Homo sapiens: one gene and its partners. The protein of the gene in region 3 purifies or fractionates together with the protein of the main gene of each other region. This does not show direct contact. Each region holds a gene or a part of one and is shown on either strand. Other genes may lie near its edges. The genes, in order: ATP1A1, SPTLC1, SPRTN, ATP2A2, CAD, NISCH and MAGED2.

Region 1 (3,500 bases), about 110 Mb from region 3:
CAGAGTGCCTGGGCACGTTTTTATCCAGTAACCTAGTCTGGTAGACAGTTAACAAGTGATCCTATGAACCTCTATGTCTTGTTGACCTTCCTCTACATCTTTTAGGGGCAATCCTCCTATTTGTTTATTTGCCCCCTATTATTTTGAAAACAATAAGTGCTGAAGAAATGTTCAGCGTATTGGGCTGTGAGAAACAACGTCCTGATGGTTTGCTTCTGACTTGTACTTAGACCTTTGGTCTCATGCTAGTCAGTTCTGTTTGTTTAAAAAAAAAAATGGTGGAAGAATATCTTTCTTATCTAACCTTTGTTGCTGTGGACATGACTTATAAGCCTAATTAAAGTTAATTAATTCTTAGTGTGTCTAAGTTAGACATACTATTTCCTGACTGCCTTGGAATGGGTGTGAATTTACATGAGCACTTATGTGCTCAGCTTAGAAACTAGACTAACGGTAAACTTTTAGTCTAAGATGCTACCTATTTTTTTCTACCCTGACAGCTACTGAGGCTGAGAAGTTCACTTTACCCATTGTCTAATGTATTTGGGAAAGTGGCATTTATAATACTTTGTAGGTTGACAGATACTACATTCATTATTTATATAATGCTTCCTATTCTTCTTAACTTGGGTAAATCTAACTCATGGTATCTTTCGTATGTGTCTATCCAACCGAAGGATTGCTATCTTCTCTTTAAGTGTTTTTCACTTCCCTACTTCCACCACCCCAAAGTGGAAGCAGTCTCTCTTCTTTTGAGTCCACATGGCACGTTAAAGATCATTGTAACGTCATACAACATTGAAAAGAATGTCTTACATTATCTTGATTCTTGTATTTACTATACTAGATGATAAACCCCCTGGGCAGAATGCATCTGATCTGTACTTATCCTCAAAAGTAGCTAGCATGATGTCCCACATTGGTGCTCAGTAATATGTTTCAGTTAAATGAACAAGAGAGCAGAGGTATGGCCTTGATGTTTCCAGAGAAGGCAGCTGAGGCAGATAATTCCATGATTTGCCAAATCCAAATAACTTAATGTCATCATCAGTGGGCAAGTCTAGAACCCTAATATCCTGGTGCTCAAAATTAGTGTTATCAATTCAGTCTTCTCCACATTAAACAATTTCCAATTCCTTTGAGGCCTGGTGTGATGGATTCTGTCTTTCAAATGCTTTTTTTCTTTCAGTGACTCTATCGTTCATAAATGTTAAATAAAACCCTCACTCTGTTATAAAAATATAGACTTTAAAAATTTTCCAAAGTAAACACTCCAGAGAAAGGTAGGCGGGCTGAATAGGCTGCTGTTGTCCTTCTTACTGCCCAGCGTCACTGAAATTTTCAAAGGCTCCTGTCCTCCTCGCAGGTTTCTGCCACCTCTTTCTGCCAGATGAACAGTTTCCTGAAGGGTTCCAGTTTGACACTGACGATGTGAATTTCCCTATCGATAATCTGTGCTTTGTTGGGCTCATCTCCATGATTGACCCTCCACGGGCGGCCGTTCCTGATGCCGTGGGCAAATGTCGAAGTGCTGGAATTAAGGTAGTGCCCAGGCGCCTCCTTGGCTTCATCTCTTAGTGCCTTGGGACACCCTACTCAGTGAATGTTGCCTTTTGAGGTCCAGATGGCCAGCTGTTCTATCTCACCTGGAGTATTAATTTCTCATCTCCAAAGCTTTACTTCCACCCAGAAAAGACCAGATAGTATTAAAATATGATGGTGTAAACACACGAGGAATTAAAAATTTTTTGGAAAGCAATTGTGTAAAAAAGAAATGTAAGCAAAGTAAAAACAGCAAAAGACTTGAAGTTTTAAAATACTTGCATTATTCTAAGTTAATGTACCTTATGCAATGAATGGCATATCTTCTGTGTTTTCAGTTAACTGTTTGTTAATGAGTGTTTGGTGTCCTCTGTGTATCTGTCTTTTTTTAAGTAGCTGAATATTACTCAAGTGCACTAATATCCTGTTGCTGGGTATTTGGTTTCTGTTTTTTACTCTCAGGATTTTATTTTATTTATTTTTTGAGACAGAGTCTTGCTCTATTGCCCAGGCTGGAATGTCATAGCACGATCTCGGCTCACTGCAACCTCCGCCTCCCAGGTTCAAGCAATTCTCCTGCCCCAGCCTCCCAAGTAGCTGGAATTACAGGCACCCGCTACCACGCCCAGCTAATTTTTGTATTTTTAAGTAAAGATAGGGTTTCGCCACGTTGGCCAGGCTGGTCTCAAACTCCTGACCTCAGGTGATCTGCCCACCTCAGCCTCCCAAAGTGCTGGGGTTACAAGCGTGAGCCACCACACCCGGCCTACTCTCAGGATTAATACTGCCCTGAAAAGCTTTGTAGAAGTTATTTCCTCACCATTCCGACTGCTTCTTTTTAAAGTATATTCTAAGTATAATCACTGCATCAAAAAATAACAATTTTGAATTCTTGTCACATGTTGCTTTTCCTCCAAGTTGTGCCAATTTGAGAATGCTAGCCAGTAGCATGTGGTGTCTTCACAGTCCCACCAGCATCAGATTTTTATCCTTTTTTTTTTTTTTTTTTTTTGCTGGTTTTAGTAATTTTCAAGTATTTTTATGTAACTCTGTAGAAGGAAAAATAGACATTGTGTATGCTAGTGATTGTATACCAAGATAAAACCTGAGTATTGCCTTTGTGTTTCCTTTCTGTGGATATATATGTTTATATTTTTGGCTAATCGATGTTTATTAGTTTTATATTTGCATTCCTTTCCTTTTGATAGTCTAAGCCGAATCATCCTTAGTATTTACTCTTGCCTACTGGATATAAGACTTTAAGGTCATTTACTTGGCAGTTGCATTCAACACATTGTCTTGTTTATTACAGGTCATCATGGTCACAGGAGACCATCCAATCACAGCTAAAGCTATTGCCAAAGGTGTGGGCATCATCTCAGAAGGCAATGAGACCGTGGAAGACATTGCTGCCCGCCTCAACATCCCAGTCAGCCAGGTGAACCCCAGGTAAGGCAGGAAGCTCAAATCACAGTCTGCTGTGAACAAGCAAATAGTGATGGTTTAAAATCTTCAGCGTGGTTCTATAATGGTTTGCATCTAGGCTTGCTCTGAGTAGGAAATGTACCTGCACTGCCAGAAAGCAACCTTGTCATTCCTAAGAAGGGTTTTAAGTAAGAGCAAGTCATAATAATTAGCACTTAGATGGTATTTACTGTTCTAAGAGCTTGATATGGTGACCTATTATTTGCAGAGCAGGGAAGGTAAGGATTCAAGAGGCTTTTGAAGTACCTCAGAACTGGTGAAATCATGCAGTAAATTCAGCAGTCTAGCTTCTGATTTCATGCTGTTAACCACTGAGCTCTACTGCCTAGCACCTAGCATCTTGACACTTTCCAGGTCCACACTAACAAAATAAAATAAGGAAGGGACAATTACTTAGGCCATTCAGGCAAACACAGGAGACATTTGGCAATGAAGTAAAACAGATAATAGCAAATTGGTTTTGTTTTAAGGTT
Region 2 (3,500 bases), on a different chromosome or scaffold from region 3:
TATAGTTGCTATGTCTTTCCAGAAAGGATTTGTGGTGGCTCAACCATGTGTGTTAAAGCATTTTCTGTAATGTAAGGAAATCAAGGGGAATGAATTATTAGGGTAGGCAAAATATGGGGAAATCTAGAAATAAAGTCAGTACCCAAATGAAGACCATATTATGGTCTTGGATACTTTGCTAGGAGTAAACAGCAGTCTTGCAAATAGATGGTTAGAGGGAAGCATGGGCAACTACTGGAGTTTGAATATTCATAAGTGTTGTGTGAGTTGCTGCAGAATAGCACAACTATTTCTGAAGTATGGGATAAAGATTCCCCTGTGGTCTTCTTAAAGGAGAGTCAGAGTAGAAAAGAATCCTACTCATACCCATCTCAAATTGAATTTTTATGTGTATGGTAAATCAAAAAAGAATTCTGAGCATAGAAGTTAAATTTTCATAAATTGTCAAGTCACCCACAAAACTACATGGAAAAGAACCTCTAGCTCTAGTGATAAGGAAAGAGGCGAGGGTGGTTAGTGCACAAAACTCACAAGTGATTGTTTTTATTCTAGCCACAACGAGACATGGTATTTCTAGCAGTGTATTCACTGTGACTTTTGCATTGCAGCAGACAATTTTGATATTGCCGAAGTTGAAGTAAAGTGACTGCGCCTGAAAAGCTTCAGGGGGTTTGAATAAGGATAGCTATAATAACAAGTGCTATGTGGCTTACGGAGGAATGAGTGATAAGTGATTTTAAATCAGTTTGTCTTAGACAAATAGAGCTTGTTATAACTATTCCTCATAAGGATAGTATGAGGAAGGGGTAGGATATATATTCTATTAGGGGGCTGAGGATGAGGGTAAGTCATATGATACCGTAGCCTCCTAACTACTGAGCTGGCAATAGAGACTTCTATGTGGGCTTTAGGGAGTCATAGGTGAAGTTCGTATAGGGGTATTTTTACTATAAAAGCCATAATACATGCTAGTCATATAAGGTTGTTAGATCAGAAGTTTAATAGTTCTTGATTAGTAAACATTATTATTAGGATATTTAGTGAACCTGAGCTATTTCAGGTGTGGATGAGTGTAATAAGTAAGGGAAGGGATCCTACTAGTGTGTAAAATAAGTATGAGCTTGCATTAGGCATTCTGGTTGGTTACCTCAGCAGGTAATAATGATTAGGGTAGGGATGAGTGTAGCTTCGAAAAGAATGTAAAGTATGACTAGTTCTGTGGCTGTAAATGCTGTAATTTAAAAAAGTTGTAGGAAAATTAATTTGGAAATACGGAGTTTTTTTCCATAAGGGTGATTCATTAGATAGGTGATGTTGGCCTGCTAGGATTATAAGAGGTAGTAGTCAGGCTGTTTGGATTAGAAGAGGTGATGTTAATGCGTCAGAAGAAAAAGTTAATGAGAAGTTAGATGAATTATTGTTTGGTTGATTAAAAAATAATAGGGTAATGAGGCTGATGAATAGGCTATGAGTAGCTATATTCAGACTATAGAGTTTTTGGAGAGTTATATTGTAACAGTATAATTGTTGGAATAATAATTTTTGGCATTGGAGTAAATTTAGATTTTGTACATAGTCTAGGCCTTATGCGTTGGAGATTGAGACTAGGAAAGCAAGGCCTACTGCGGCTTTGCAGGCAGCAAATACTAAGAGGATAATGGGTATTATGAATCCTAGAGTGAAATGCATGTTTAAAATTATGAGTGTATTTATGATAAATATTGATAGTATGATGCCTTCTAGGCATAATAGAGATGGTATTAGGTGGGATCGATAGATTAGTACTCCCAGCAGTGCTATGGTATATGCTAATATAATGTTAATATAAATAAATGGCATTTGGTAAATATGGTCTATCATAATCTAATGAGTCGAAATCATTTAATTTAAACTATTTACCAGTTCAACTCAATCTAATCCTTTTTGGGTTCATTCATAAATTAGGCCTAGGATTAGAATGGTAATTAGTAGAAGGGTTGTACTGATTATTAGTATAAGGTTATTTGTTTGAAGGGCTCATGGCAGGGGTAGGAATAGGACGATTTCTAATCGAATAGGAGAAATGTGATGGCTACTAGAAAGAATTTTATGGAGAAGAGGAGGTGGGTAGAGGTTAATGGATCAAATCTACATTCATAAAGGCTGGATTTTTCTATGTAAGTATTAAGTTATGCAAGTCAAAATGTAATTACTACTAATAATAGAGTTAATAAAGTGTCAGTTATTAGGGCTAGTGCTAGGTTAATTACTCTTTTTCAGACTTTGTCGAAACTAGTTGATTGGAAGTCAGTGGTACTGCTTATACTAAAAGAGTAGTAGGACCCTCACCAGTAGATAGAGACACATGGGAATAGTCATACGACATCTACAAAGTGTCAATATCAAGTGGCGTCTTTAAAGCCAAAATGGTGGTTGGATGTAAAATGAATTTTTTTTTTTTGAGACAGAGTTTCGCTCTTGTTGCCCAGGCTGGAGTGCAATGGCGCAATCTTGCCTCACCGCAGCCTCCGCCTCCCAGGTTCAAGCGATTCTCCTGCCTCAGCCTTCCCGAGTAGCTGGGATTATAGGCATGTGCCACCACGCCCAGCAAATTTTGTATTTGTATTAGAGACGGGGTTTCTCCATGTTGGTCAGGCTGGTCTCGAACTCCCGACCTCAGGTGATGTGCCCACCTCGGCCTCCCAAAGTGCTGGGATTACAGGGATGAGCCACCATGCCCGGCCTAAAATGAAATTTTAATTGGCAGAGAAGGCAGATGGTGAGAATTGTTGATCCAATAGTAACATGAAGTCCATGAAAGCCTGTGACTATAAAGAATGTTGAGCTGTAGATTCCATCAGAGATAATAAAGGGGGCCTCGAAATATTCTGAGATTTGTGGAAGGGTGAAATAGACTCCTAAGAGGATTGTGGTAAGTAGTGCTTGAATTGTTTGTTTTTGGTTACCTTCTGTTAGGCTGTGATGGGCTCAAGTCACTGAAACTCCTGATGCAAGTAATATAGACGTATTTAGGAGAGGTGCTTCTGAAGGGTTCAGGGGAAGAATAGCTGTTGGGGGTCAATGTCCTCCTAATTCTGGGGTTGGTGCTAAACTGGAGTGATAGCATGCCCAGAAAAAACCGGCGAAGAAGGATACTTCTGAGATAATAGGAGCATCCTGTATCGGAGGCCTTTTTGGACAATTGCTGTGTGGTGGCCTTGGAATGTACTTTCTCGGACAATATCACGTCATCATTGATATATAGTCAGTGTGTTGGTTAGTAGGCCTAAAGTTAAAAGAGTGGTAGAATTAAAGTGAAATCCTATGGTTAGGCCAGATGTTATTAGGAGAGCCGAGAGAGCTCCTGTTAGTGGTCAAGGGCTAGGTACAACTCTATGGTAGGCATGTGTCTGGTGGGTCATTATGTATTATGCGAACAAAGACGTACTAATAGTGTGAAGACATAAGCTTGAATAAGAGTGACAGCGAACTTGAGAATAGTTAGTAGAATTAGAATAATA
Region 3 (3,500 bases):
GAAGAATTCTGATGAGGGAATGACATCTGCAATGGTAGCAGGATACAGGATGGACTAAAAAAGACAATAATAAGGAAACAAAGTTAAGAGATCATGATGATTCCAGAAGTGACGTACTGCAGGCCTGAATTACCTGTGTGTAAAATGTTGACTCAGAAGAGGTCAGAGGCCTCAGGGATATCACTGGCTCTGCTGCCATTCCACCATGTAGTCCCAGACAAGCCAATTTGCTTCTCTAGGCCTCTCGTTCGCTGTGGAAAATCCTCAAAGATACTTGTTTCTACCTAGTTCTCTACTTTTAATTAAATCTCAGGAGTTATTGAATAAACAACTACTAAACATCATAAATAGATATGGCTTTCTATACCGTTATATTGGCTCCAGTCAGGCTGTTGATGCGATGCATATGTTTACAAAATTCTGGACCATGCCCTTCTCGGTCTTTGTCGTTATTAGTGACAAATAAATAGGCATGTATCATTTCATGCAGGAGGGTCTGGAACATAAAATATTCAAATTAGTTTTAGAGTCTGTATGACACTTTGGAAAATATAAATTTTCTTATTCTATCTGGTGTCTAACCTTTTCTGTATCACAGGCTTCCTTCAGAACTGATAAAACTCATTCTAGGCCGGGTGCAGTGGCTCACACCTGTAATCCCAACACTTTGGGAGGCAAAGGTGGGAGGGTCACTTGAGCCCAGGGGTTGGAGACCAACCTGGGCAACATGGCGAAACCCTGTCTCTACAAAAAAATACAAAAATTAGCCAGGTGTGGTGGTGCATGCCTGTAATCCCAGCTACACTCAGGAGGCTGAGGTGGGAGGATCCTCTGAGCCTGGGGAGGTTGACGCTGCAGTGAGCTGTGATTGTGCCACTGCACTCCAGCCTGGGGGACAGAATGAGACACTGTCTCACAAAAACAAAACAACAACAACAAAAAACCCACCTCATTCTATAAAAATTATATAAGCACTCATTCACAAAATATTGCATATGAGTTGAGCATCCCAACTCTGAAAATCCAAAATGCTCCAAAATCAGAAACTCTTGAGCAATGACATGACACTCAAAAGGAAATGCTCATTGGAGCATTGCGGATTTTCAGATTTGGGATGCTCCACCTGTAAGAATAACACAAATATTCCAAAATCCAAATAAATCTGAAATCCAAGACACTTCTAGTCCCAGGCATTTCAGAGAAGGGGTACTCAAATTTGTGTAACATCTAAAGCTCTGAAAATCACAGGTTAAGAACTCCCTGTTCTAGGAAGACCTTTTTGACTATATATCAAAATCCAGAAAAATCAATGAATTCAACTACATAAAAACTTTAAAATTCTTTTTTTTTTGAGACAGGGTCTTACTCTGTTGCCCAGGCTGGAGTGCAGTGGCTCAATCTCTCCTCACTGCAAGCTCTGCCTCCTCGGTCCAAGTGATTCTCGTGCCTCAGCCTCCTGAGTAGCTGGCACTACAGGTGTGCACCACCATGCCTGGCTAATTTTTGTATTTTAGTAGAGATGGGGTTTGGCCATATTGGCAAGGATGGTCTTAAACTCCTGACCTCAAGCAATCTGCCCGCCTCAGCCTCCCAAAGTGCTGGGATTATAGGCGTCAGCCACTGCACCCAGACAAAACTTTAAAATTCTATAGGAAAAAAACACCAAGTAAAAAGACAAACTCAGAAAAATATATGTATAACTCTTATCACAGGCTATTCCTAATATACAAGGAGCTCCTAATGTCAACAGGGAATGACAACCCAATTTCAAAATGGGCAAAGACCATGGAGTTCACAGAAGAAGTATAAATGACCCACAAACAAATGAAAAAACGCCCAACTTCCGGATCACGAGGTCAGGACATTGAGACCATCCTGCTCAACATGGTGAAACCCTGTCTCTACTAAAATACAAAAAAAAAAAAAAAAAATTTTGGCTGGGCATAGTTGCGCCCGCCTGTAGTCCGAGCAGTATACTCAGGAGGCTGAGGCAGGGGAATTGCTTGAACCTGGGAGGCAGAGGTTGCAGTGAGCCGAGAATGCACCACTGCACTCCAGCCTGATGACAGACCAAGACTCCATCTCAAAAAAAAAAAAAAAAAAAAAAAAGAAAAGAAAAGAAAAAATGCCCAACTTTATTTATAAAAAGAGAAATGCGAATTAATACTACACTAGGATGGTCAGGCGTGGTGGCTCATGTCTGTAATCCCAGCACTTTGGGAGGCTGAGGTGGGAGGATTGCTCGAGGCCAGGAGTTCAAAACCAGCCTGGTCAACATAGTGAGACCTTGTCTCTACAAAAAAATAAAAATAAAAATAAAACAATTAGCTTGTGCATCTGTAGTCCTAGCTACTCAGGAGGCGGAGATGGGAGGATCACTTGAGGCCATGAATTCAAGGTTGCAGTGAGCTATGATTACCTCCAGCCTGGACAACCCAGCAAGACCCTGTCTCAAAAAACAAAAAACCCCCACAAAAACCCAACACTACACTAGGATGTTATTTATTGCTTATCAAGATTGGTAAAACTCCTAAAGTTTGACACCATTAGTAAAGCTAAGGGAAAATAAACATTCCTATATACTGCTGGTGGGAGTGCAATTCTCCTATGGAAAATTTGGTAGCATCTAACAAAATTACAAATGCATTTGTCTTCTGAGAGAGCAATACCTAGACTAGCATGCAAGGTCATATGCACAAGGTGTATTCACTGTGACACTGCTTATAACAGCAAAAGATTAGAAATAACTCCAGTGTTTTATACATCCATATAATGGAATTCTATGCAGCCACAAAAAAGAATGAGAAGGATCTACATGAAATGGTTTGGAGAAAGCTATAGAGCGTATTAATGAAAAAGACAGGGGGCTGGGCACAGTGGCTCATGCCTGTAATCCCCGCACTTTGGGAGGCCGAGGCAGGTGGATCACCTGAGGTCAGGAGTTCAAGACCAGCCTGGCCCACATGGTAAAACCCCGTCTCTACTAAACACACAAAAATTAGCCAGGCATGGTGGCGGGCGCCTGTAATCCCAGCTACTCGGGAGGCTGAGGCAGAGGCAGGAGAATCACCTGAACCTGGGAGGCAGAGGTTGCAGTGAGCCGAGATCATGCCATTGCACTCCAGCCTGGGCAACAAAAAAAAAAGAAAGAAACAAAGAAAGAAAGAAAGAAAAGAAAAGAAAAGAAAAAGAAAAAGACAAAGTACAGAAGAATGTACATAGTATTTTGTGTAAGAAAAATTTTGTATGGTGGGGAGGAGGAATAAAAATGAATAGAAATATTTGCAAAACAGAAAAATGAAAAGAAACTAACAGCTCCTACAGCAAGTAAGGAGTTCAAGATAGAGGAGGACACTGAACAAGACATCTTTGTGTATAGCTTTCTACAGCTTTTGGGTTTTGATTCAGAAATCATGAAAACTTGAAACAAACACTAAAACCTACTGCTCATTCCACACCAAAGATGCACAAGTTTCTGTGCAAAATTAACAAAAGCATTT
Region 4 (3,500 bases), on a different chromosome or scaffold from region 3:
CAAATTGTTGCTAATTCTACCAGACCATCATACTGGTGACAATTCACTGGTTTATCATCTTTATGCCTGCCCAAAGAGAAAACACTCTTAGAGCAGGGTATGGTCGCCACTATTGATTCCTCCCGCCCCCTGCCCCCCCGCAATTGTTTAATAATGAAAACAGAATTTCTGGGACAACATACTGGAAAAAATTCCAAACAATTTGATGCCAGAGCCAATATTAGACAAAAACAAAAGAGAGAATGCATCTCTGGTATCAGAAATCAATCAGTAAAAAGACCAGAAATTCTTAATTCAATTCTTCCACCACTGGCTACAGTGAATAACAAACACAAATCCCTCTTGAAAGTTTGGAGCCCAGAAGATGCAAAAAGATGACTGGATTATAACCTTTGGTTCATCTTTCAAAGTTTTTGTTTTAAAAACATTTACTACTTTAGTAATAAGTGTTGACTTGAGCCACATTCAGAAAGCTGTCTTAACTTTGTAGACATGCTGCAAATCAATACAAATACTAAACTGCCACACCAGATCCTTTAAATGAGGAGGAGGGTTACTCACACTTCTCCAATAGGTGCATAAGTTGATCCAGTTATGGTAAACTCATTAAGGGAACAAGTATCACCTTCCACTCTGTCCAGAATGAACATCTGTAGGGGGAGAGCGCATCAGAGTATTTAAAAGGGATTTTTAAAAAATGCTACACAAATAAACTACCTTTGTTAGCTTAGGACAAAGGCAAACAACCTCTTTCATTTACGAAAACAACTTTAATAAAACTCACTGAGGCTCACTCAGCATCAGCAGTACTGTCCCTTACCCTAACTAGCTTAATTATATTAGACTGCTTCGCCCATCACACCCCCGACCAATCGAACAGTATGAAAAACAGCATCACTGAGGTGCTGAATGAATGAGCAGCAGTGGCACCAAAGACACAACAACCCACACAAAATCCAAGTTATGAGGACTCCCGGTCAGCAAAAGGTCAGTTCCAGAGACAAGTTACTCTTTAGATTGCTCAGAATCCCAAATTTCAAATGGCTGGCTGTGAGAGTGGTATTAGGTAGTCCTGCCTTAGAGCTAAGCACAAAAGCTTGGGAAGAATAAACTCACATTTCAGAGTTGCATAAACATTTCCCGAGTAAAATAAGACAAACTGCTTCTCTGCTCCTTCCCACTTATTTTTATTGTGGCAATAGCTCATGTTCTATGAAGCTGCATAACTATATGTATACAGTAAGGAGCCCGCAGAGCTGAATGAATTGATGTTCCCTAGACAATACAGATGGAAGCATGCTTAGGAAAGGATTAATTTTATTTTTTAAAGCGACATAAGCTATTTTCTTAAAGATAATTTTTCCACTGCTTGATTTGCATTCACAAATTATAATTCAGAAGCCCAGTTTGGAAAAGTAAGATTTAGGCTTGTGTTTTCATTGCAAATGAAAACTTGTAAAACCTCCTCTAAAAAGAAAAAATTACAGAAAGTGATGTCAAAACTATATTTTCTCGTGCTTTCTCTGAAATATGAGCAATTAATAATCTGATCAAATCATTCTCTAAGGGGAATTTAAAAAATGTAAAACTCAAGTTAAACAGGCCACGTTGAGCTGGGCACGGTGGCTCACGCCTATAATCCCAGCACTGAGAGGCCAAGGTGAGTAGATCATGAGGACAGGAGCTCAAGATCAGCCTGGCAAAGATGGTGAAACCCGTCTCTACTAAAAATATAACAAATTAGCCGGGCGTGGTGGTGGGCACCTGTAATCCCAGCTACTCAGGAGGTTGAGGGAGAGAAGTGCTTGAACCCGGGAGGCAGAGGTTGCAGTGGGCTGAGATTGCGCCACTGCACTCTAGCCTGGGCGACAGAGCAAAACTCCGTAATAACAGCAACAACAAAGCTATGTTGTGTTTTAAAAACACATCTTTTCAGAGCAATTCATCTCACATTCAATAAGGAAATTAGTTAATCTTTATTTTAAAATAACTTTTTTTTTTTTTTGAGGTGGAGTTTCACTCTGTCGCCTAGGCTGGGTGGACTGCAATGGCACGACTCGGCTCACTGCAACCTCCGCCTCCCGGGTTCAAGTGATTCTCCTGCCTCAGCCTCCCAAAGAAATTATAGGCGCCTGCCAACATGCCCAGCTAATTTTTGTAATATTAGTAGAGACGAGGTTTCACCATGTTAGTCAGGCTGGTCTCGAACTCCTGACCTCAGGTGATCCGCCCGCCTCGGCCTCCCAAAGTGCTGAAATAACAGGCGTGAACCACTGTGCCCAGCCAAAAATGTGAAATTCTTTGAGTCTATACCAAAGCCCAAAATATTCTAAAAGACATTCAGAATCTGAATCTACATTAGCTAAATCTAAATGTACTTAGACATTTTTGACTGTGAGCAAGTCAACCATTTAGGATATGCAGGATGAAAATCTTCCTAAGTCAAGGGCAGTTATGCAATACCACTGCAAGAAGCCTCCTGCAGAATACCAATTAGCACCAGCTTCCTGTTGTGAGGTAGAGCTTCACTCAGAACAGGCAGGCTTTTTCTTTATTATAAGAAAACATTTTAAGCCAAGCCATTCAAGGGAGAAAAGAACAAAAAAAAATTATAGTGAACTGGGAAACTGAAATTTTAAAAATTACAATTTTACACATGGCTTTACACATGGCTTACTTTCACAGACATAAAGACTATTCTGAGGAATTAAAGCTTTCAGGCTAAGTGAGACACAAAATCGTAAATAAGAAAATTCCCTTTCTCTTCCTGAAACAACCAGTATGACAAAACTGACTTTTAGCCAATTCATCCAACCTTTTGGTTCCAAAAAATAAGAACTTAAGTAGCTCAAACACCTTAATATCCTGGAGAAACCTAAGACAAACCTAGAAGCTTTCCACTTTGAAAGTTGGAACACCCCAGTTCTGTCAATTCTAAATGTGGGTTTGGACTTCACAAGGAGCTTGCGGGGGAGGGAGAACCTGTATCTAAAAAATCATCATGAGCTTAAAATTGGCAAGATAAAAATTCACAGGGCTTAACTGATTATAAAACAATTTCCGATGTTAAAAATAATTATCTAAAACCTGACAAAAAGGCCAAGATAACTACACCCTTTCAATATCATACAGAAGCATTATTTAACAAGCCCATTCTAGGAAAATGTAACACTGTGTTACTAAATAAATGCTCATGTTATATGAGGTTTCCCTGTAAGACATTAGTTTTGTAATCTAACCTAGCAATCCCTATTCTAATATTCTAATATTGAACACTTCCTCAAATACAGATTCCCTTGCTAATTAATGAGCCGAATAAAATATGTGACAAATGTCTACTCTGTATGAGTCATGTGTACCTTTTGGAATAGACTTGTACCAAGTTGTTTAAGCAAAACCTAAGGAAAGTGAATTATACAAAATAATCCAGCTGTATAATTATTGCATTATTTATTCAGTTGTTACTTTTCTAACAGCAGGTTTAAATTATTTATTTTATC
Region 5 (3,500 bases), on a different chromosome or scaffold from region 3:
ATGGGGATATATTCCAGTATCCCCATGCCCGTTTTAGGCATATTGATTCCATATTCATCAATAAGCACAAAGCCTGAGCTTATCCATGAAAATAGCAGGGAAAAGAGCTATAAGTTAAGATTTCTTTTTGTTTGTTTGTTTGTTTTGTTTTGTTTGAGACGGAGTCTCGCTTTGTTCCCCGGGCTGGAGTGCAATGGTGTGATCGCTGCTCACTGCAAGCTCCACCTCCCGGGTTCACGCCATTTTCCTGCCTCAGCCTCTGGAGTAGCTGGGGCTACAGGCGCCCGCCACCACTCCCGGCTAATTTTTTTGTATTTTTAGTAGAGACGGGGTTTCACCATGTTAGCCAGGATGGTCTCGATCTCCTGACCTCGTGATCCTTCCGCCTCAGCCTCCCAAAGTGCTGGGATTACAGGCGTGAGCCACTGCGCCCGGCCATTAAGATTTCTTAGTTGTGAAACACCATGAATCCCACCATCATGTGACTTGCCTTGAGAATCTCCCAGAGTCTTGACTATAAACCATAAGCATTATGGGCAGTGCCTTCTTCCCACCCCTTCCACCTCCACACCTTCATTCCTTCCATTCTGTTCTTCCAGGTGAAGTCATGGGCATTGGGCGTTCATTTGAGGAGGCCTTCCAGAAGGCCCTGCGCATGGTGGATGAGAACTGTGTGGGCTTTGATCACACAGTGAAACCAGTCAGCGATATGGTAAGTAGCTCCCCTCCCCTGGCAATACCCCTAAAATAGACCCTGCTTCTCATCGCCCCCAGACCATGAGCTTGTTACCAGTAACACTAGCAGCAGTCATCATTGGACATTTGCTTTGTTTCCACTTTGCTGAGAATTTTGAGATGTCTCATTAGCACGCAAGGGTGTATTACTAGACTTGTTTTTACAGATGAGGAAACTGAGACATAGGTTATAGAAATTACTCAAAGCCACATAGCCAATGAGAGGTAGACCCAGGATTGGTATCCAGGTTTTTGCAGTTACACAGCCTGTGCTCTGGTGTACAGTTTCCCCTTCCTGAGACAAGAGCAGCTACTTACGCTCAGGCTTTTAGATGGGCTGGCAGTAGCTTCCGTCTGTCTACCCCCTTTCTATCAGGAGTTGGAGACTCCAACAGATAAGCGGATTTTTGTGGTGGCAGCTGCTTTGTGGGCTGGTTATTCAGTGGACCGCCTGTATGAGCTCACACGCATCGACCGCTGGTTCCTGCACCGAATGAAGCGTATCATCGCACATGCCCAGCTGCTAGAACAACACCGTGGACAGCCTTTGCCGCCAGACCTGCTGCAACAGGCCAAGTGTCTTGGCTTCTCAGACAAACAGATTGCCCTTGCAGTTCTGAGGTCAGAGGTGGCAATGAGAGCTTCCGGCTGGGAAATGTGGGGCAGAACCTTTGTATCAGTGAGGGACCCTTGGGAGGGAGGAAGGAGAGTGTGGGAGAGCTTTAGAGGCTTCTGACCTTGGTTCCAAGGATATTTCCTCTCATCTGTGCCCTGGGGTCTCAACCCTCTATCAGTCTGTACCCTACTCTCTGGGCCTGTGTTTCAGACCCTTTTTCTATTTTAGCACAGAGCTGGCTGTTCGCAAGCTGCGTCAGGAACTGGGGATCTGTCCAGCAGTGAAACAGATTGACACAGTTGCAGCTGAGTGGCCAGCCCAGACAAATTACCTATACCTAACGTATTGGGGCACCACCCATGACCTCACCTTTCGAACACCTCATGTCCTAGTCCTTGGCTCTGGCGTCTACCGTATTGGCTCTAGCGTTGAATTTGACTGGTGTGCTGTAGGCTGCATCCAGCAGCTCCGAAAGGTCAGAGAGTTCATTTTCTTTCCACTTTCCTTGCTATTCTGTTCATCTCTAGCAATTGCTTGGCACTAATCCTGGCATTTCCTATTAATTGCCGTCCCTTACTTTGGTCATAGAGCTTTGGGGTGGGGGTCCTTTTAGGCCATCTCTCATGCCCCACACGGTATATGAATCTCTTCCCCAACACTTTGTACCTCCTTCCCTCCCAAGGCAGGGGTCCTGTACAGCTCTTTCAGAGGAAGCTGTGCTGGCAGTCTCTGAAGTAGGGGCTTTGGCTTAGTTTCTCCACGATTTTCTCCACGATTTTCCTCCCACCTGACTGCTAAGTACCCTTCCCCTCCCTCTTGCAGATGGGATATAAGACCATCATGGTGAACTATAACCCAGAGACAGTCAGCACCGACTATGACATGTGTGATCGACTCTACTTTGATGAGATCTCTTTTGAGGTGAGGGAGATGGAGGCTTCCTGGTAGCTTGAGTGGCCAGGGTCGAGTAGAACAGCTGGCTGACCTAAGATTCTTTGAAACTTGGTGGCGGCTGAGGGAAGCAGTGAGCAGGAAGGCTCAGATTCCTGCCCTCTTTTGCTGCCACCACTTGTTTCTCCCCCTGCAACGTAGGTGGTGATGGACATCTATGAGCTCGAGAACCCTGAAGGTGTGATCCTATCCATGGGTGGACAGCTGCCCAACAACATGGCCATGGCGTTGCATCGGCAGCAGTGCCGGGTGCTGGGCACCTCCCCTGAAGCCATTGACTCGGCTGAGAACCGTTTCAAGTTTTCCCGGCTCCTTGACACCATTGGTATCAGCCAGCCTCAGTGGAGGGAGCTCAGTGACCTCGAGGTGGGCTGGGACCTGGTGGGTTACCCGGAGGCTGGATGATGCTTGGGGGAAAGTGTGAACAACTCAGCTAAGCTCCCTGCCTCCTGTAGTCTGCTCGCCAATTCTGCCAGACCGTGGGGTACCCCTGTGTGGTGCGCCCCTCCTATGTGCTGAGCGGTGCTGCTATGAATGTGGCCTACACGGATGGAGACCTGGAGCGCTTCCTGAGCAGCGCAGCAGCCGTCTCCAAAGAGCATCCCGTGGTCATCTCCAAGTTCATCCAGGAGGCTAAGGTGGGAGGCTGCAGACAGTGAAGTCTCTGAGGGCATGCTGCCAGCCCTGGAGGAGACTTCCTTCTCTGGTCCAGCAGAATCATAGGCACCAGGGCTGGGAACAGTGGGCTATGTGGGGCTCGTTAAAGGAAGAGACAATCCTAGAGTAAGTGAGAGAAGAAAGTGGCCCTATGTCCCACTGTCTGTGTCCCCCCGCTAGGAGATTGACGTGGATGCCGTGGCCTCTGATGGTGTGGTGGCAGCCATCGCCATCTCTGAGCATGTGGAGAATGCAGGTGTGCATTCAGGTGATGCGACGCTGGTGACCCCCCCACAAGATATCACTGCCAAAACCCTGGAGCGGATCAAAGCCATTGTGCATGCTGTGGGCCAGGAGCTACAGGTCACAGGACCCTTCAATCTGCAGCTCATTGCCAAGGTAATAAGGCTAAAGGAAAGAACTAAAGGGCCACAGCTCTTGCATGTTCTGTGCTGGCCACAGTGCCATGAAGCCCTGCACTGTCTCCTGCCTTCATCCAAGTAGGCAGGGAAGCTGGAGGGAAAGGGCTGTAGCTAGAGCT
Region 6 (3,500 bases), on a different chromosome or scaffold from region 3:
CTCCAGCCTGGGTGACAGAGCGAGACTCCATCTCAAAAAAGAGAAAAGGCTAGAAAAGGCATCACCAGGTCACCAGGGCAAAGGCCCTTTGGGCTTGAAAAGCATTGCTCCTAAAGCAGGGCCAGGACTTAATTCTAAGTGGCTGTTATGTGGTAAATTGTTCAGCTTTGAACGATTTCACAATCGTTTAAAGACATAGGAACCAAAGGCATGCTTTAATGCAAGTTTACTTCCACATGCTAAATATGCTCCAGCCCTTCCTTAAATTCTGCAACGACTGTGTTCCCAGTGAGTGTTGCGTGAGGGCCCGAGTGTGGTGCTCCACACAGATGTTTTTATGCAGGAAGTCCTTGTTCCTGAAGCCTCAGAATTTGATGAGTGGGAGCCTGAAGGCACAACCCTAGAAGGCCCTGTGACTGCCGTCATCCCCACTTGGCAGGCATTGACCACGCTTGACCTGAGCCACAACAGCGTCTCCGAGATCGACGAGTCTGTGGTATGCTCTCAGCAGCAGGTGCCAGGGGTTTCTCTGGCCCCACCAAACCCTGAGTTTGAGTATTTAACTCAGCTTTTTTAGGAAGGACCACGGAAAACCTATATCTAGTGCTCTGTGCATTGCCTGCCATTTTAAGTTAATTACAAAATGGGGGCTGGGCGTGGTGGGTCACACCTGTAATCCCAGCACTTTGGGAGGCCGAGGCGGGAGGATCACTTGAGGTCAGGAGTTCGAGACCAGCCTGACCAATGTGGTGAAACCCCATCTCTACTAAAAATACAAAAATTAGCTGGGTGTGGTGGTGCACACCTGTAATCCCAGCTACTTTGGGAGGCTTAGGCAGGAGAATCGCTTGAACCCGGGAGGCGGATGTTGCAGTGAGCTGAGATAGGGCCACTGCATTCCAGCCTGGGCGACAGAGTGAGACTCCGTCTCAAAAGAAGAAAAAAAAATGGGATCATTTAAAATTGGTGAGGTAGTACTTAGAACCAAATAAAACATAATAATTTCATGTAAATTTGGTAAACTATAACACACTAAATGATGACATTTGCTCCAAAGAGTGGAGCAGAAAAATCACTCCTTAGATGACAGATGTGCCCATGAAAGAATGACACCCAGAGGGCATTTGGGCAGTAAGAGTGTCGTTCCCGTGTTTGCGCTGCTCAGGGAGTGTGGGCAGGGTTGAAGAAGAACAGACTCTCTTCTCTGTCTGGGACCTTGCTGTGTGTCATTTTCACAAGCCAAGTGTTCCATGAAAACTGAGTAGTGCCCAGCACTGGGGGCCCTGTGTGTGCCTTTGGATGTGCTACTGGCTGGGCAGCGGGAGATGTCCCACCAGTGGTCCTGCAGGGACGGCCCGTGGGAGTCCATGGTCGGGAGGAAGCGTCCTGGGGTGCCCGTCCACTGTGTCGGGGACCGTGTTTGGGGTCCAGCCCCCTACAGTAACATCGGGTGTTCTTTTCTTTCACAAGAAACTGATCCCAAAGATTGAGTTCCTGGACCTGAGTCACAATGGATTGCTGGTTGTGGACAATCTGCAGGTAGTGCCTTTGGAGACCAGTGCTGCCCGCACACACTCCCAAGGCCCCGCCCTGAGATTTCAGGAGACTGACGCAGCCTTGGGAATTGGCCAGGGGTTGTAAGGGCAGGGGTTGCTGTCTTCGCTTTAGGATCCCAGCAATGCACTGAGTGATTGTTGCTCTAGTTCCAAAGAATTAGGAAGCATGAGTAAATACAAACCAGGCATGATGATGCACCTCCGTCCTGAAGGTGGACAGCCATGTTTTCAACGCCCACCCCAACTGTCTGCAGGGGTGCCACTGTGCTGTGGCATGTGCGGCAGAGAAGAGGGACTTCCCTTCCTAAAATAACTGTCAGAGTGACTTGCAGAACTGGGTAGTTTGGGTTGGAAGGCCCATCCTGCCATTAGTGTCAGGCCCCTATCTTTGGAGACTTGACCTGAGCCACTTTACGCTGTTCTCCACGCCGCTGCAGCACCTGTATAACCTTGTGCATCTGGACCTGTCCTACAACAAGCTCTCCTCCTTGGAAGGGCTTCACACCAAGCTGGGGAACATCAAGACCTTAAACCTGGCAGGCAACCTCCTAGAGAGTCTGAGTGGCCTGCACAAGCTCTACTCACTGGTCAACCTGGATCTCCGGGACAACAGGATCGAACAGGTGAGCCCAAGGACCTCACAGTTTTGGGATTTCTGTGCCTTGGTGTGTATCATGTTAAAGAAGAATGTTAAGATTCCTTTCATTTAAAAGAGACCATGAAACGTGTTGGCGTGTTGCTGAAGTGTTAAGAGAAGGGACCAAAGGGGATGGAACTCATACCTTGCAGATGGAGGAGGTCCGGAGCATAGGCAGCCTCCCGTGTCTGGAGCACGTGTCTCTGCTGAACAACCCTCTGAGCATCATCCCCGACTACCGGACCAAGGTGCTGGCTCAGTTCGGAGAGAGGGCCTCAGAGGTGAGCCCCAGCACAGTCAGAAGAGCCCAGGGAGACCTTCGGGATGCAGTCAAGTCTGCATGGGCGGTAGGGGGATATATGTCCATTGTTCTACCCTTGCCTGCTTCAGAAAGAGGTCCTGTCCCTTAGGGGCTTTTCAGTTCTGGGAAGTCCACTATCTCCCCAGGAAAAAGCTCCCTTGCATCTCCTGCCCCTACTGTCTGGGATAACATTGTTTATTCTAGGAAAGGGTCAGAAATAAGATCCTTAAAATATTCATATCTCCTGGACAACCTGTGGCCATAGTGCCTGACTGTAAACCCAAAGGGTTTGCCTTTGCCAGTGTAGCCCAGCCTGGTGTCTGCTGCCCCTCGCGGTGTCTGTGCACCTGCCACGATGCTGACCAGACACCCTTAACCAGGTTCACCCATCGCCTGGGCCTGGAGCAGTCCCCGTGATGCTCTGATTGGTCCTTGGACCTTCTGTTCTCCCAAAATCCCAGGTCAGAAAATACCTGGAAGTCTATTTGTGTCCCACCTCCCTCTTTGTGGCCGCAAGTGCCCCTTCCTCCACACAGTCACAAGACCATGAGATGCCATCTCCTCCCCTCCTGGGCTGCAGACTTTGGGAAGCTCCCAGGCCACAGAGTGTCAGCTCCTGTCCAGGCCCTTGGGACCTTCCCTCATTCAACCACCCTACCCAACCCCCCACTGCCTGCCAGCCACCACTCCCTCCCACATTTGCAGGCGGGGGCCCTGCCCTCTCCTGCCGCTGGTTCCCCTACCCAGGAGGCTCTCCCATCGCTCTTTTGAGAGTCTGCCTCCCACCTCTAACTGGGGGCTTAGTTCAAGTTGCCCCCTTACCCTAGTCCCAGCTGCCCAAGAGCTTGCTGCCTCCTGTTCTTGGTGAGGGACTCCAGAGACAGATGTGAGACCTCCCTGGACCCCTCCAAGGCATTCCCAGGTCACTTCCATGAGTAGTGAAGAGCCGCCTCTGAGCAGGCTGAGCCTCCCTCAGCCTATGGTGTCCTCACGTGGCCTGGCCCAC
Region 7 (2,886 bases), on a different chromosome or scaffold from region 3:
GATGCATGTGTCTATGTGTGTATGTATTTGCATATTTGCATGTATGCAGGTGGGATTATTCCTTGGGCGGTGATGGGAAACAGGAGCAGCACATGTTTCCTGATCTGTTACATATACCTCAACATTTGTCTTGAGACCAGTTCTGCAAGGGAGGGATTATCATTACCATCATTGTACGTATGCAGAAACTGAGGTTTAGAGAGGTGAAGTCATTTGGTCAGGGTTACACAGGTAGCAAGTAGAAGAGTTATGTTTAGAACTTGGCTCCAAAGCCTTAGTTCTTTTTATTCTGCTAACTAGAGCTTCATAGAAATTAATTTCCGTAAAGAAATGACATAGAATGGTAGCTTCAGGCAACCAGGTACCATGCTGGGGAGTTGACTTGTACATCTCATTTCATTTTCATAACTACCCTGCAGCTGTCATCCCATCCCCGTTTTACAGTTGAGGGACCTGGGGCTCCGAGAAGGGAGATCTGAGCATGGCCCACAGCTGGTATGGGCCTGGAGCCCAGTCCTCTTGAATTTCTGGCCAAAGCTCACCTATCCTTGGTCCTTGGAGGACATGCAAACACTCACACAGCCACACGCATGTGCACACAGAAACACACACAAAGGGTCAGGAATTCAGCATGTGTGAAGCATGCTGCTATTGGCTGTTCTTCCTCTGTAGTCTTTCTGGTCATTTTCTGTGGTGGACCTTTCTGGGCTTGGCCAGGCTGAGGCCAAGACACTTGCAGTGGGGTGTGCTCAGAGCAGGGGGCCCAAAGAATGGCTCCTCTGTTTACAACACACCCAACAGGAATCTGGGGTCATTGTGATGAGGGCGTCAAACTTGTGGCTTCCCTATGAACAAACGTCCCCCAACACCTCTATGTGGCTTCTGGGCAAGACCAGTGGGACAGGGCTCAATATTGGAAGAAAGACTGTAGTAATTAGTGGATGATGTTGCCATCTGGAGCCTGTCCAGTCTATGCATGGGTAGGCCATGAATGGTCTTAGAAATAAAGGCTTTGAACCTCTCTTTCCAAGGTACCTGGACTATGCCAGAGTCCCCAATAGCAATCCCCCTGAATATGAGTTCTTCTGGGGCCTGCGCTCTTACTATGAGACCAGCAAGATGAAAGTCCTCAAGTTTGCCTGCAAGGTAATTGGAGAGCTCCTTGAGCTTGGCAAGTCAAGAGCATGGGGTGCCCCTGGCTGGGGCAGGCTGTGTGCAGAGCAGCCTGCAGTTCAAATCTGAATGTTTTGGTGCTTCTGTTAATTGTCAAAACACTGTAACAGGCACTTTATCTGAATCATTTAAGCCTTACAACCTGATATGTCATTGCCCTGTTACAGATGAGAAAACCGAGGCCCAGAAAGGTTGGTAGGTGACATGTCCAAAGTCATGGGGCTAGGAAGTGTCAGAGCAGGGATGGAATATTAGGTGCATAATTACTGGTAATACTGTATTATTACTATTATCTTTTTATACTAAGCATGTAGCATAGTGCCTAGCATAAAGGTAGATGCTTAATCCTCTTATGCTCCTTCTGATGGTTATTTACATAGTAATACTGTATTATTACTATGGCTTAATCCCTCTATGCTCCTTCTGATGGTTATTTTTGTTTCAGGTACAAAAGAAGGATCCCAAGGAATGGGCAGCTCAGTACCGAGAGGCGATGGAAGCGGATTTGAAGGCTGCAGCTGAGGCTGCAGCTGAAGCCAAGGCTAGGGCCGAGATTAGAGCTCGAATGGGCATTGGGCTCGGCTCGGAGAATGCTGCCGGGCCCTGCAACTGGGACGAAGCTGATATCGGACCCTGGGCCAAAGCCCGGATCCAGGCGGGAGCAGAAGCTAAAGCCAAAGCCCAAGAGAGTGGCAGTGCCAGCACTGGTGCCAGTACCAGTACCAATAACAGTGCCAGTGCCAGTGCCAGCACCAGTGGTGGCTTCAGTGCTGGTGCCAGCCTGACCGCCACTCTCACATTTGGGCTCTTCGCTGGCCTTGGTGGAGCTGGTGCCAGCACCAGTGGCAGCTCTGGTGCCTGTGGTTTCTCCTACAAGTGAGATTTTAGGTATCTGCCTTGGTTTCAGTGGGGACATCTGGGGCTTATGGGGCTGGGATGAGGAGCTGGATGATTCTAGGAAGGCCCAAGTTGGAGAATGATGTGGAGAGTGTGCCAAGACACTGCTTTTGGCATTTTATTCCTTTCTGTTTGCTGGATGTCAATTGACCCTTTTATTTTCTCTTACTTGTGTTTTCAGATATTGTTAATCCTGCCAGTCTTTCTCTTCAAGCCAGGGTGCATCCTCAGAAACCTACTCAACACAGCACTCTAGGCAGCCACTATCAATCAATTGAAGTTGACACTCTGCATTAAATCTATTTGCCATTTCTGAGTTTATTGCTTTTTTTGGCGGGCTGTCACATTTTGGTATCACATTTAAAAATCAGTGAGTTGGGAAAGTTTCCACCTCAGTCTGTGTTTAGTTTGAGGTGATATTGTTGGATTCCCAGGAGCGAGATTAACACACCTTTCTGGGATAGATTGGGCCTCACGTCTAATTGTTGGATTCCCAGGAGCGAGATTAACACACCTTTCTGGGATAGATTGGGCATCACGTCTAGCCTTCAGGGTGGTGGGATTTTAGTGGGGTGGAGTTCAAGAGATTGTAGTTACAGAGGACACACTTTGAAGGAGAGGCTTGAGGTCGGCAAGTCTAGAGCAGAAAGTGTAAGTAGAGGAGACTGGACATCAAATATAGAATCCCTTTTTGAGAAATTTGAATGAGGAGAGAGAGGGGTACAGAGCTAAATGGAGATACAGGAACAAGGGAGCATTTTCTTGGGGAAGGAGAGAGAGACTTGAGTAGGGAGGAGTCAACGGAGAGGGAGAAGT

What was found.
Region 1: the proteins of SPRTN (region 3) and ATP1A1 purify together in Homo sapiens (affinity purification with mass spectrometry, with the first as the bait; 2 studies listed by BioGRID). This does not show direct contact.
Region 2: the proteins of SPRTN (region 3) and SPTLC1 purify together in Homo sapiens (affinity purification with mass spectrometry, with the first as the bait; one study listed by BioGRID). This does not show direct contact.
Region 4: the proteins of SPRTN (region 3) and ATP2A2 purify together in Homo sapiens (affinity purification with mass spectrometry, with the first as the bait; 2 studies listed by BioGRID). This does not show direct contact.
Region 5: the proteins of SPRTN (region 3) and CAD purify together in Homo sapiens (affinity purification with mass spectrometry, with the first as the bait; 2 studies listed by BioGRID). This does not show direct contact.
Region 6: the proteins of SPRTN (region 3) and NISCH purify together in Homo sapiens (affinity purification with mass spectrometry; 2 studies listed by BioGRID and IntAct, with this or other methods). This does not show direct contact.
Region 7: the proteins of SPRTN (region 3) and MAGED2 purify together in Homo sapiens (affinity purification with mass spectrometry, with the first as the bait; 2 studies listed by BioGRID). This does not show direct contact.

The regions. Positions count from the first base shown.
Region 1 is NC_000001.11:116,393,744-116,397,243, forward strand, and holds part of ATP1A1 (sodium/potassium-transporting ATPase subunit alpha-1), read left to right. Parts: intron 1-1,366; coding exon 1,367-1,542; intron 1,543-2,854; coding exon 2,855-2,991; intron 2,992-3,500. UniProt on the Homo sapiens protein: This is the catalytic component of the active enzyme, which catalyzes the hydrolysis of ATP coupled with the exchange of sodium and potassium ions across the plasma membrane.
Region 2 is NC_000009.12:92,108,914-92,112,413, reverse strand, and holds part of SPTLC1 (serine palmitoyltransferase 1), read left to right. Parts: intron 1-3,500. UniProt on the Homo sapiens protein: Component of the serine palmitoyltransferase multisubunit enzyme (SPT) that catalyzes the initial and rate-limiting step in sphingolipid biosynthesis by condensing L-serine and activated acyl-CoA (most commonly palmitoyl-CoA) to form long-chain bases.
Region 3 is NC_000001.11:231,344,793-231,348,292, reverse strand, and holds part of SPRTN (DNA-dependent metalloprotease SPRTN), read right to left. Parts: intron 497-3,500; coding exon 368-496; intron 1-367. UniProt on the Homo sapiens protein: DNA-dependent metalloendopeptidase that mediates the proteolytic cleavage of covalent DNA-protein cross-links (DPCs) during DNA synthesis, thereby playing a key role in maintaining genomic integrity.
Region 4 is NC_000012.12:110,329,747-110,333,246, reverse strand, and holds part of ATP2A2 (sarcoplasmic/endoplasmic reticulum calcium ATPase 2), read right to left. Parts: intron 651-3,500; coding exon 562-650; intron 67-561; coding exon 1-66.
Region 5 is NC_000002.12:27,230,869-27,234,368, forward strand, and holds part of CAD (multifunctional protein CAD), read left to right. Parts: intron 1-599; coding exon 600-712; intron 713-1,111; coding exon 1,112-1,356; intron 1,357-1,579; coding exon 1,580-1,826; intron 1,827-2,173; coding exon 2,174-2,272; intron 2,273-2,443; coding exon 2,444-2,668; intron 2,669-2,757; coding exon 2,758-2,940; intron 2,941-3,139; coding exon 3,140-3,358; intron 3,359-3,500. UniProt on the Homo sapiens protein: Multifunctional protein that encodes the first 3 enzymatic activities of the de novo pyrimidine pathway: carbamoylphosphate synthetase (CPSase; EC 6.3.5.5), aspartate transcarbamylase (ATCase; EC 2.1.3.2) and dihydroorotase (DHOase; EC 3.5.2.3).
Region 6 is NC_000003.12:52,476,104-52,479,603, forward strand, and holds part of NISCH (nischarin), read left to right. Parts: intron 1-343; coding exon 344-496; intron 497-1,470; coding exon 1,471-1,539; intron 1,540-1,993; coding exon 1,994-2,179; intron 2,180-2,345; coding exon 2,346-2,474; intron 2,475-3,500. UniProt on the Homo sapiens protein: Acts either as the functional imidazoline-1 receptor (I1R) candidate or as a membrane-associated mediator of the I1R signaling.
Region 7 is NC_000023.11:54,813,630-54,816,515, forward strand, and holds the end of MAGED2 (melanoma-associated antigen D2), read left to right. Parts: intron 1-740; exon of another isoform or gene 741-871; intron 872-1,031; coding exon 1,032-1,146; intron 1,147-1,618; coding exon 1,619-2,053; 3' UTR 2,054-2,061; intron 2,062-2,251; 3' UTR 2,252-2,386; downstream 2,387-2,886. UniProt on the Homo sapiens protein: Regulates the expression, localization to the plasma membrane and function of the sodium chloride cotransporters SLC12A1 and SLC12A3, two key components of salt reabsorption in the distal renal tubule.